Linked DNA regions of Homo sapiens. Changing the gene in region 2 together with the main gene of any one other region gives a genetic interaction. Each region holds a gene or a part of one and is shown on either strand. Other genes may lie near its edges. The genes, in order: ARID1A, USP8 and PTAR1.

The links.
Region 1: changes in USP8 (region 2) and ARID1A together harm fitness more than expected from each alone (negative genetic interaction), as found in Homo sapiens cells (one large-scale study listed by BioGRID).
Region 3: changes in USP8 (region 2) and PTAR1 are lethal when combined (synthetic lethality), as found in Homo sapiens cells (one study listed by BioGRID).

The regions. Positions count from the first base shown.
Region 1 is NC_000001.11:26,768,889-26,772,544, forward strand, and holds part of ARID1A (AT-rich interactive domain-containing protein 1A), read left to right. Parts: intron 1-2,230; coding exon 2,231-2,438; intron 2,439-3,611; coding exon 3,612-3,656. UniProt on the Homo sapiens protein: Involved in transcriptional activation and repression of select genes by chromatin remodeling (alteration of DNA-nucleosome topology).
Region 2 is NC_000015.10:50,479,878-50,483,533, forward strand, and holds part of USP8 (ubiquitin carboxyl-terminal hydrolase 8), read left to right. Parts: intron 1-1,603; coding exon 1,604-2,188; intron 2,189-3,656. UniProt on the Homo sapiens protein: Hydrolase that can remove conjugated ubiquitin from proteins and therefore plays an important regulatory role at the level of protein turnover by preventing degradation. Converts both 'Lys-48' an 'Lys-63'-linked ubiquitin chains.
Region 3 is NC_000009.12:69,749,989-69,753,644, reverse strand, and holds part of PTAR1 (protein prenyltransferase alpha subunit repeat-containing protein 1), read left to right. Parts: intron 1-2,694; coding exon 2,695-2,864; intron 2,865-3,656.

The DNA.
Region 1 (3,656 bases), on a different chromosome or scaffold from region 2:
GAGGGATTTATTCCAAACCTTCTAAATCAGAAGAGGAAAACAGCTGTCACCAGCAGAAAAGAAAGTGGTTGGAATGAAGCCAGCCAACAGTCAGTTATGAATTCCTTCTCCCTTCAGGCTTTATTCCCCTCCCCCACAAAGGAAAACAAAACAAAATAAGACACGTGCATACTGCCACATAACTGGCATGAGAAGCAAAGCCACGGAAGGCTTTTGAGGTGACTCCATGCATATTCCTGCCATTCTCCCTGATACTCAGATCTCATAGTCAAGCCTTCCCTGTCTATAGGGAAAGGGAGCATTGGGTTAGGTTTCGCTCACTTCTGATTGGGTGGGCTTCAGGGTTCACTGAACCTAGGATGAGGTACAGAGAGAATTCTAATGCCTGAGCCTGTCTTCCAGATTGGAAAAGGATGCAAACCTTTAAAATGCCGTGATTGTAACTGAACTTTTATAAAGGCAGTGATAATTCAGGGGCAAAAGAGTGCTATTTATAAGTTAGTTTGTGAAGGCTCCAAGAAAGCAAAGCTGAATCTTGAGCTTATCTAAAGGATTAGTAGGGTTTAGGTGGAAGAGTGGCCAATCCAGTAGACTGGCCTAGATGCCACGGAGATGGGAGAGAGTCTAGATATTTCCCACCAAGGCCATCTCCAACCATGAAGACTTAGCTCAGGTGTTACCCACTCTAAGAAGTATTCCTAGTCACCTCTGCCCCTCTAGGTTGTCCCCCTCTGTGCCTCTTTAAACTCTTCTTTCTAGTATCATAGGTATCATATCAGCAGACATTACAACCTATTGAACTTCCTTTGTGTATAGGGACTTGAAAACCCTTGTTCCCAGGCCTTGGGGGAACAGGCTTACCATATGGTAGATGAATAAGCATAAGAATACATGAAGAAGGAGACCTGTCCAGCTAGAGCAGAAAGACTAATTGTAGGGAGCATCTGGGGAATGGGCTTGGTCAGTGTGCCCTGAAGCTGAGGGAAGGAGGCAGAACTGTAGGTTGGCTGCTCGGGAGGTACAAAAGTCATAATAAGGCCCCGGGCCAGGCGCAGTGGCTCACACCTGTAATCCCAGCACTTTGGGAGGCCGAGACGGGCGGATCATCTGAGGTCAGGAGTTTGAGACCAGCCTGGCCAACATGGCCAAACCTTGTCTCTACTAAAAATATAAAAATCAGTGGGGTGTGGTGACAGGCACCTGTGGTCCCACTACTTGGGAGGCTAAGGCAGGAGAATCACTTGAACACGGGAGGCGGAGGTTGCAGTGAGCCGAAATGGCGTCACTACACTCGAGCCTGGGTGACAGAGTGAGACTCTGTCTCTAAATAAATAAGACCCTGAACACCCGGACCATCAGGACAGTGACTGGTAAGGGAAAGGGACCTGTGGTTATTTGTCAATGAGATATGTAGGGGAGCAGTGGCACAAGAATGTCAAATTTGCAGGGAGCCACCACCCCAAGAAAAAAATATGAGTAAATCCCAAGTTTGACAAAGCAAGTCAAGCAGGGTGGTCACTGATATTATCATGAGTCTCCATTTTATAAAATGTTAGTTTTTATTAGTGCATCTAAAATAGGATTTAGGGCCAGGCGCGGTGGCTCACGCCTGTAATCCCAACACTTTGGGAGGCTGAGGCGGGTAGATGACTTGACGCCAGGAGTTTGAGACCAGCCTGATCAACATGGTGAAACCCCGTCTCTACTAAAAATACAAAAATTAGCCAGGCGTGGTGGTGCACACCTGTAATCCCAGCTACTCGGGAGGCTGAGATAAGAGAATCGCTTGAGCCCGGGAGGCAGAGGTTACAGCGAGCCAAGATCACGCCACTGCACTCCAGCCTAGGCGACAGAGCGAGATTTATTTTTTCTGTCTCAAAAATAAATAAATAAAATAGGATTTAGATATCCAGATGATTTGTACACCACTTTTTAGCAGCGTACTAAAAAACCGGACTCTGAATTCTGTTCCAGTAGTAATGTGAAATTTGCCCTGTTGTGAATAAGCACAGTCTGATAGTTGCAGTGGAACATCCTGAGGGTAAAATGAAGCCAGCTGCAGATTTAACACTTCTTGTGGACTATCCACCAAGCAAGATTAACTTTTTCAATTACCTAAGAACTGTGGTTCTACAAAGATGAATACCTTACAGCCTGATGGGGCTTGGGGCTTATGGGCAGGAAAACCAGGCGGGAGATATACCTCGACTCCTTTGGTTTGGTTATACAGGTCAACAAGAACAAAAAATGGCGGGAACTTGCAACCAACCTCAATGTGGGCACATCAAGCAGTGCTGCCAGCTCCTTGAAAAAGCAGTATATCCAGTGTCTCTATGCCTTTGAATGCAAGATTGAACGGGGAGAAGACCCTCCCCCAGACATCTTTGCAGCTGCTGATTCCAAGAAGTCCCAGCCCAAGATCCAGCCTCCCTCTCCTGGTAAGGATGGGGTCAGCGGCCCCACCAAGGCTGAGAGGGCCTGTTGCCCTGGCCTCTTATTCAGGATATGAATAAGAGGCTTATCCAACAGGATATGCCAAGGATCTGTGCTCTGCCTTGCCCTACCACAGGGCTTAACAGGTTGGCTGACTAGAGAGTGGGCAGTGGAAACTCCCTTGGGAGGTACTCTACGGCAGCTCTTAAGTTTTAATTTTTGTTGTGCAGCTGACAACTTGCCAAATGTTTGTAAACTGGTGAATGGGAGGGGCACAAGAGGAGTCGGTGGAACTTATAAATGGCAGCAAGGCAGGGCCATCTGGGAGCTTTGGCCTATTGATGTCAGCACCTTAGAATGCAGCTCAGACTAGAGCCCTGAATTCCCCAGGGAGCTGAGATGGTAATGAATGGGAAGGAGGGAGTGGGGAAGGGTTATGAATGGAACTCCCTGATGGGAGTGGCTCTGCTCACCCTCCTTTCTGAGAGGAGGCTGAGGCCTAGGGTGAGCCTAGAGAGGGAAGAAGGCCAGGGTGCCTGGAAGGTGGGTGTAAACACATGTGCCCTGGTGTTGACCTCTGAGGGTGTAATGAGTGCCTGAGATGACTCATCAGCTGGGGAGGCCTCAGCAGTGGGATATCTACTGCTGGGAATGGTAACTATTGGAAACATTAATTACTAGTAGTTTTGTACTCATCAGCTTAGAAGAACATTTGAAGTTGAGGAGTGACACCATGCTGGATGCTTTAGAACAGGAGCTCCTAGACTCCTAAAATGCATCCCAGATTTGGGACCCCCTTCCCACCCAGGACTTGGGAGGCTCTGACTGGAGCTCATGCACCAGCATTACAGGGTTTAGTAGGTTAGACAAGGTCCTTTGGCGGAGTGAAGAGAAATAGCCAGGGAAGCTGGCAATGACTCAGGGAATCACCAGCATGGTGATGTCATGGCCACATCACTCCTCTTTTCTACACGTAAAACAAAAACAAAGAGCTACAAAACCCTCAGATTCCCGTCTTTATGACCTGGCCTTGTAGATCCTCTGCTAAGAAGGGTGATCAGGCTTTAAAGGCCTTAGGAAGAACTTTCCCAAAGAGATTCTGGGTCGTTCGTGTGTTTGTGTGAGAGTTAAACACTGTCATGCCAAGCAAACTACTCAACTTGTATCTCTGTCCACAGCGGGATCAGGATCTATGCAGGGGCCCCAGACTCCCCAGTCAACCA
Region 2 (3,656 bases):
CCTCCTGAGTAGCTGGGATTATAGGCACATGCCACCACGCCCAGCTAATTTTTGTATTTTTTTTGTAGAGATGGGGTTTTGCCATGTTGCCCAGGCTGGTCTCGAACTCCTGGCCTCAAGTGATCTATCCGGCTCGGCCTCCCAAAGTGCTGGTATTACAGGCGTGAGTCACTGCGCCTGGCAACTTCTTTTATTTTCTAGTAGAAAAACATAAATTCGTTTTGTAAGAACACTATGTAGATTGTTATTGGCACATGTTCTTATAAGTTTTTATTTTTCTTTCAGTACACAGTATTCTCAAGAAATGATGTTAGGGTCACTTCTCTAGTGTTAACATGCTGTTAAATTGAGGTAATAAACATTTAACTCATTAAATCAGGAACTTAGGTAGTTTATTACACAACCTGAAGGAAACTAGTTAGTATTTTACCTCATGTAAAAGTTTTTAGGGAAGATTGCATTTGTTCCCTCAGTAACATAGTTACTAACTGTGCCAGGCACAGTCTTTATCCTTTTAGAGCTTATATTCTAGGAGGGAAGAAAAATTTTAAATAAGTAATTATAGTTATTTGATCAGAATTCCGGTAGAGAAGAATAAAGTATTATAAGAGCATGTATCAGGGGACTTGGCTAGTTCTAGGAACCAGGGAAGTCTTTTCAGAGGGAGAGATGTGTAAGCCAAGACCTAATGTGGGCATTATCTAGATGAACAGCTGATAGACCTAAGTTGGGAAGGAGCATGGCATCTTGGAATAATTTTTTTTTTAAGGCAAGTATAGCTGGTATACACAGCCATATGACTGGAGAGGTAGGCAGATGTAAGACCATACAGGGCATTACAGACTATGGTAAAGATTTTAGGTGTACTGAGAGCATAGTGGGTAGCAAATCAAATTTGTTTTAAAATGAGTCCTCTGGCTATAATGTGGAGAAACAGATTGGGGGGCGGGGGCAAGAGAAGAGATGGGCAACTAGTTGAAAGCTATGCTGTAGTCCTGGTGAGAGAGGAGGTTGACATGGTCTTAGCCTGTGGTAGAAGAGATGGAGGGACAGATATAGGAGGAAAATTAACAGCGTGCAGAAGGATATGGGAAGAACATATCATGGGACTCAGGTTTTTGATTTGTGCAACTATTGGGAGAGTGAGAGTGGTTACATCCATGAGATTAGGACCATGTTTGTCGGGGTGGGGGGAATCGTGAATCCGTTTTGGCTGTATGGGGTTTGAGATACATGTGTTGACACTCAAATGGAAATATTGGGTAGGCATTTGGATACCTGGAAGTGGAACTTAAGTCTAAGTATGCCCAGGTCTAGGTTTTATGTTTTAGAATAAAGACATTTTTAACTCTTTTGTATACAAAACACTCAGGAAGAATTGAAAGTGTTGAATCAAGAGGATGTAAGTTCCAGTGATGTTTGAATATCTACCATTCAAGTTCTGTTTTATGAGAAATCTTGACACTGAGTAATTAACAAATAGATGTGCTGATAGATGTTGTCTCCACAAAGTGACACTTCTTTTATCACAACTTGATCTCAAGAACTGAGGTTATTTCCTGATTTTTGACAAAAATGTTTTGCTCTGGTTTTGTTGCTCTAGATTGATCGTACTAAAAAACCAGCAGTCAAATTGCCTGAAGAGCATAGAATAAAATCTGAAAGTACAAACCATGAGCAACAATCTCCTCAGAGTGGAAAAGTTATTCCTGATCGTTCCACCAAGCCAGTAGTTTTTTCTCCAACTCTCATGTTAACAGATGAAGAAAAGGCTCGTATTCATGCAGAAACTGCTCTTCTAATGGAAAAAAACAAACAAGAAAAAGAACTTCGGGAAAGGCAGCAAGAGGAACAGAAAGAGAAACTGAGGAAGGAAGAACAAGAACAAAAAGCCAAAAAGAAACAAGAAGCTGAAGAAAATGAAATTACAGAGAAGCAACAAAAAGCAAAAGAAGAAATGGAGAAGAAAGAAAGTGAACAGGCCAAGAAAGAAGATAAAGAAACCTCAGCAAAGAGGGGCAAAGAAATAACAGGAGTAAAAAGACAAAGTAAAAGTGAACATGAAACTTCTGATGCCAAGAAATCTGTAGAAGATAGGGGGAAAAGGTGTCCAACCCCAGAAATACAGAAAAAGTCAACAGGAGATGTGCCCCATACATCTGTGACAGGGGATTCAGGTTCAGGCAAGGTAAGCAGAAACAGTACAAATTGCCAACGAAGTGAAAGAAAATGTATATGAAAATGTGAAAACACCAGTGGCATTCCATAAAAGGGCAGGCATTTCAAATAGTCTTTTCAGGGGTGATAGAATGTACTGATCTATCCACATTTGCTCATCTATTCTCCTTTGAGGCCAGTGCCATACATTTATGAAATGATTGGTTGGGAATGAAATTGCTTTTTGTATATTACATCTATAAAATGCAATATATTTCAAATAATTGAGATAAATAGCTACATTCTTCATTTTTATGTTTGATGTATGATCATGGGAAGACTAGAGTGAAATATAATCTCCTTCTCAGTATGGGGAAACTAGATGCTAATATTTGTATGATAGAATTTATATCTGTTTAGAATATATCCAAAATCAGTGACATCTAAATGGCCTAACATTTATCTTTGCATATAGTGATTTTTTGGTCAGATCGGTGTCATTTTGTTTCTTGCTTTATCTATTTAAATAATATTGGCAAATAACCCAATTAATTTTGCCCTTGGCTACACACCCAAAATTGATAGCCGTAATTTTAGGGGACTTTTTTTGTTATTCTTTTTCAATCTCTAATAATGCTATGCTTTTCTTTTTTTCTTCATTATGTCATTAACAATGCCTTTTCCTTTTGAACACCAAGTATATGTTTATAATACCAAGAACAGTTATGGTCCTTTTTACATATGTATAAATGGAAAAAACATTTTTAGTAGTGTGGAAATGACTTCTAATGGAAGGCGGGATACCATCTTTACAGAATGTCAATTTCTATACTTCTCAAACACAATTCAGGCATGTTACCAAAATTAATTCATAGTCAAGCTGCTCTTATCCAGGGAACACTTATCTGGTAACCTCTGCTATTAAAAAAGATAGCTTCCATCCAAAAACCTTCTAAACACCCCAAATTGGGGATATGAAGCCCATGTACTAAAACTCTCTAATTTTATTCACAGGAGGAGCAAAACATGTGCACTCCAAGATACAATTTAAGTATTATTCATTGAGTAGCTACTATATGCCAAGTATTTTCACTGCATTGTCTTATTTACCCCTAATGATAACCCCATAAGGTATTTAATTTACAAGTGAAACTGAAGTTTAGAGGTTAAGTATTTGCCTAGGATCACATAGACAGTGAGATTCCAAAGCCACTTCTTTTCCATCTTGCTATACTAGAGGCATGCAGTCTTTAGAACTTAAATCATTCATATTTGTGGAGTCATTTAGTATATAGGTGCCAAATATTCCTACACATCTAAGATTGCATTCTTTGTGTGCTCCTTTTAAAAGTAGGAGAAATATGTAATTTATTCTAGAATAAATTTTGTTAAAATTATCACTAATTTTAAAAAGTTTTTAGTAGAGTTATTTTAAAATAAGATATAAAACAAAAATGAGTTTTTAAAAAGAATCTACGGGCCGGGCGCGTTGGCCCACG
Region 3 (3,656 bases), on a different chromosome or scaffold from region 2:
TTTGAAAGCTGGGTGAAATCTATCCCATTTGCCTTACTGGAGGTATAATACAATTCTACCATTTTACAAATGAGGAAACTGAAGTCTACAGAAGCCAAAATGACCTGATACTGATATGTATGTATATGTGTGTGTGTATATATCTATTTCCATCCAGGACTTGGACACATGCTGTTTTCAGTATACTTTATTAGGAGAAAATCAGAGATAATGTTCTTTTAGAGGGACAAGAAGTGAAAACTATTAATTTGAATATTATCACTAAAGTACCAGGATAATCAGCCTTTCAGGAAGCAGCTATTGGGCACCTGCTATATCCAAGCCATTCTTATTTTATAAAGTATTTCTTGAAAGAACAGACAGTCAAAGCAGTGTGTTTTTTAATTGTGCAGATGGCTCTTTTCTGTAGTTTAGATACCAAATTATTAGCTGGGCATTTTAATCCTAGTTTAATTAGTGAGCAAGACAGGTTTTTATATTGTGAATTTAAGTTTAAAAAAAAAATCCCCCCCAAAAACAAACCATACCCAGAAACAGGATTCTTTTATTCTTGTTACTATAACAGTTATATTGTTGACTCTTGCAGTTCTTTGAAGTGTTGTAAGTAGGTTATTATATCTCAGAGAACAGAATTTCCTGAAATAATCACATTGAGTTTATTTACTTATTTAGTTTTACTTTATTTTTTAATATTCTTCATGTAGTAAAACACAAACATCAGAAAATACCAGAGATTCAGTCATATATTAGTCAAGTATAGCTAGATATGGCTAGGGGTCATAATAATGAATTAGATAGATTTCAGGATACTACCAAATAGAGATGCACAAAATATATTTTGAAATACTGGGCATTGACCTCAGGTGCTCTTTCAGCTTTGTCCTTATTCTTCCTACAGGACTTTGTTTATATTATTGGAGTAGTAAAGTGGTAACATTTTATTATGGATATTGACACAGATCCCCAGCAAGACTTTAGCTCTTTGAAGTCTGAGACCACTTTGCTTTATTCTTTTTGAATTTTAGAACCTAAGAAAGCACCCAGTACATTGTAGTTAATCAGAAAACTTATGATAGTATTGATATAGTATATCAAAACACCTTTGAGTCAACGGAACCAATTGTAAGGATAAAAACCCATAGATCCCACAGTCTTCTTGAGAGTTAAATTAGCTTGAAAGAATTGTTAGTGTCTTGCAACCCCTAAGATATCCTTTTTATTGATAAATCCCTGTGCCACTAATGAAGTGATCAGTAGAAAGTAGATTACCTCTAAGCTATTCAGTTTAGTTTCCAGGAGGGGTTTTATTTTAAATCCACAGCCTCCTACCAATTTGTGATAGTGGCCCAACAAAAAGACAGGGTGTTTCTCCTACTTTGTAATTCAACCAATTTCCCTCTTTTGGGTCTATCAAACCACTGTGTTCTTGGTAAGGGGATGCCAGGGACATAATACATAATGTCACACACAAACTCTGAAAACCAGTTCATTATTCTGCTTTTTAAAGACATGTTTAAAATATCTATATAGACACTCTAAAAACATTTATTTCAACTACTCTTATTGTTAAAAAGTTTCTTGTTATTCATTAATTAAACAGAGGACATTCTGTTTGAGAAAGGATCCTTTGTGTAGGCAAGAATTATAACTTCCTTTAGAGTTGAAAGGCATGTGAATGTGTTTTGCACAAATTTTTTACGTTTGCTGGTTCATTTACTAAGTAAGTCAAATGCCCTACATATTGTTTATTAAATCTCTGCCTTTAATGTAAATTTTCAGCTTAAGTTGAGGTGGATTGAGGGATATAGATGCTACCACAGAGGAAAATTATTGAATTCTGAAATGTATTTTGTGTTTTAACATTTATTTGGGTGGTTTTTTAATTCAGGAAAATATAAAGAAGAAAAAATGGCCCAAAATCTCACTGATAAAATAACGTTTTTTGATACTTTGTTTCTGGTCCACATGCATTTATTAGCAAGCAAGCATAAACACATTTGTTGACATTAAAAAAATAGAAATACATACAATTATTAGATAATTGAAACTGTATAAAAATAAAATCCTTCCTTACCACCTTTCTCTCTCCAAAAATTTCTTGTTATCCTTCCAAGAAAATTTTTAATGCATCTATATATCTTCTAAAGAAATTATACAAAAGGATTTGTGCTGTACACTGTGTTCAGCATTTTGCTTTTTGTTTTCATTTCATATATCTTGGCAACTTTTTTTATGTCAGCATATGCAGATCTACCTCATTGTTTTTTAATGGCTTGATTATGTGGATGGGCCTTTTTTTTTTACTAGTCTTATATTGATAAACATTTAGATTGTTTCTAGTTTTGTTGCAACATTGCAGTGAACATCTGATTCACATATTTTGGCATAGGATAATTTCTGAGCAGTTGAATTGCTGGATCAAAGGGTATGTTCCTTCAAAATTTTGAAAGACTTTTTTTTAAGTTGCCATCCAAAGGCAAGACCAGTTTTCACTCCTGTCTACAGAGAGTACAGCATACTGGTTTTCTCATACTCTTGCCACTATTAGCATCTACCAATCCCAGTAAGTGAGCTAAATAATATTTGTAAGGAAGGGGGAAATATGTGGGGTTTTTAAAATACTCTGAAATTAGAAAAATGTTGAAAAGGTTAGTATCCTTATTTTTAATTCTTTTTTATGTTTTACATATTAAGAGATGAAATTGGCCTGATCCCATGTCCTGAAGCTAGGTATAACCGGAGTCCCATAGTCCTGGTTGAAAACAAACTGGGTGTGGAGAGCTGGTGTGTCAAGTTCCTTTTACCATATGTCCACAACAAGCTCCTTTTGTACAGAACAAGAAAGCAATGGCTGAACAGAGATGGTAAGTATGAATCATATTTTCTTCATTTGGTTTTTAGAAGCGACATGGAATATAGTAGGAAGAGCCCTTCTCTGAGTGTCAGCATTCCTGGATTCTAGTTCTGCTTCTTCTGTTCACTGTCTCGGTGGGTGCTAACCTTTCTGTCAAGTGAGTAGTTTCTACTCACCTGGACAAATTTTACAACCACAGTGATTATATAGAAGCCCTCAAGCAGAATTTCAGGGCACCTCCTGTAACCAGAGCAGTTCAGATTTTATCAGTTTATGTATTGGGGTCATTGGTAAGATTTCATTTGAAGGAAAAAAAAAAATCTGAATGTCACTGAAGAAGACTCTAGTCCCTATAGGCTCAGTCTCTGGTTTCTAATCCTTTAGTATTTTTATAGGCAGCAAAACTCATTTTCATAGTAGTCCAAATGAGATAATGTAGGCATGATAGTGGTAGTGATATTATGAACCAGCCCAGTGATTTATGGATGTGCCATTCCACTGCAAGTTCCAGTTGAGCTCTGGCCGTTTGTATCCTGTTCCTGTGCTGAAATGAGCAAAACAAAACTATCCGGCATTCACTTCTTCCATTTCTCTCAGACAGTTTTTTTTTTTACTGCATCAGACAATCCCTAATCATTCCATCTGGTCTCTTTTCTTGGTGTTCTGCCATATTAAGCCTCCATGTGCACAAATTCTGTTTATCATTGTATGCCCACCTCAGGTCTCACTTTTTGGGAGAAGACTAATTTAAGACCATGTCCTTTACTGTTTTTGTAAAGCTTCTTCCCCTTCCCATGTACGG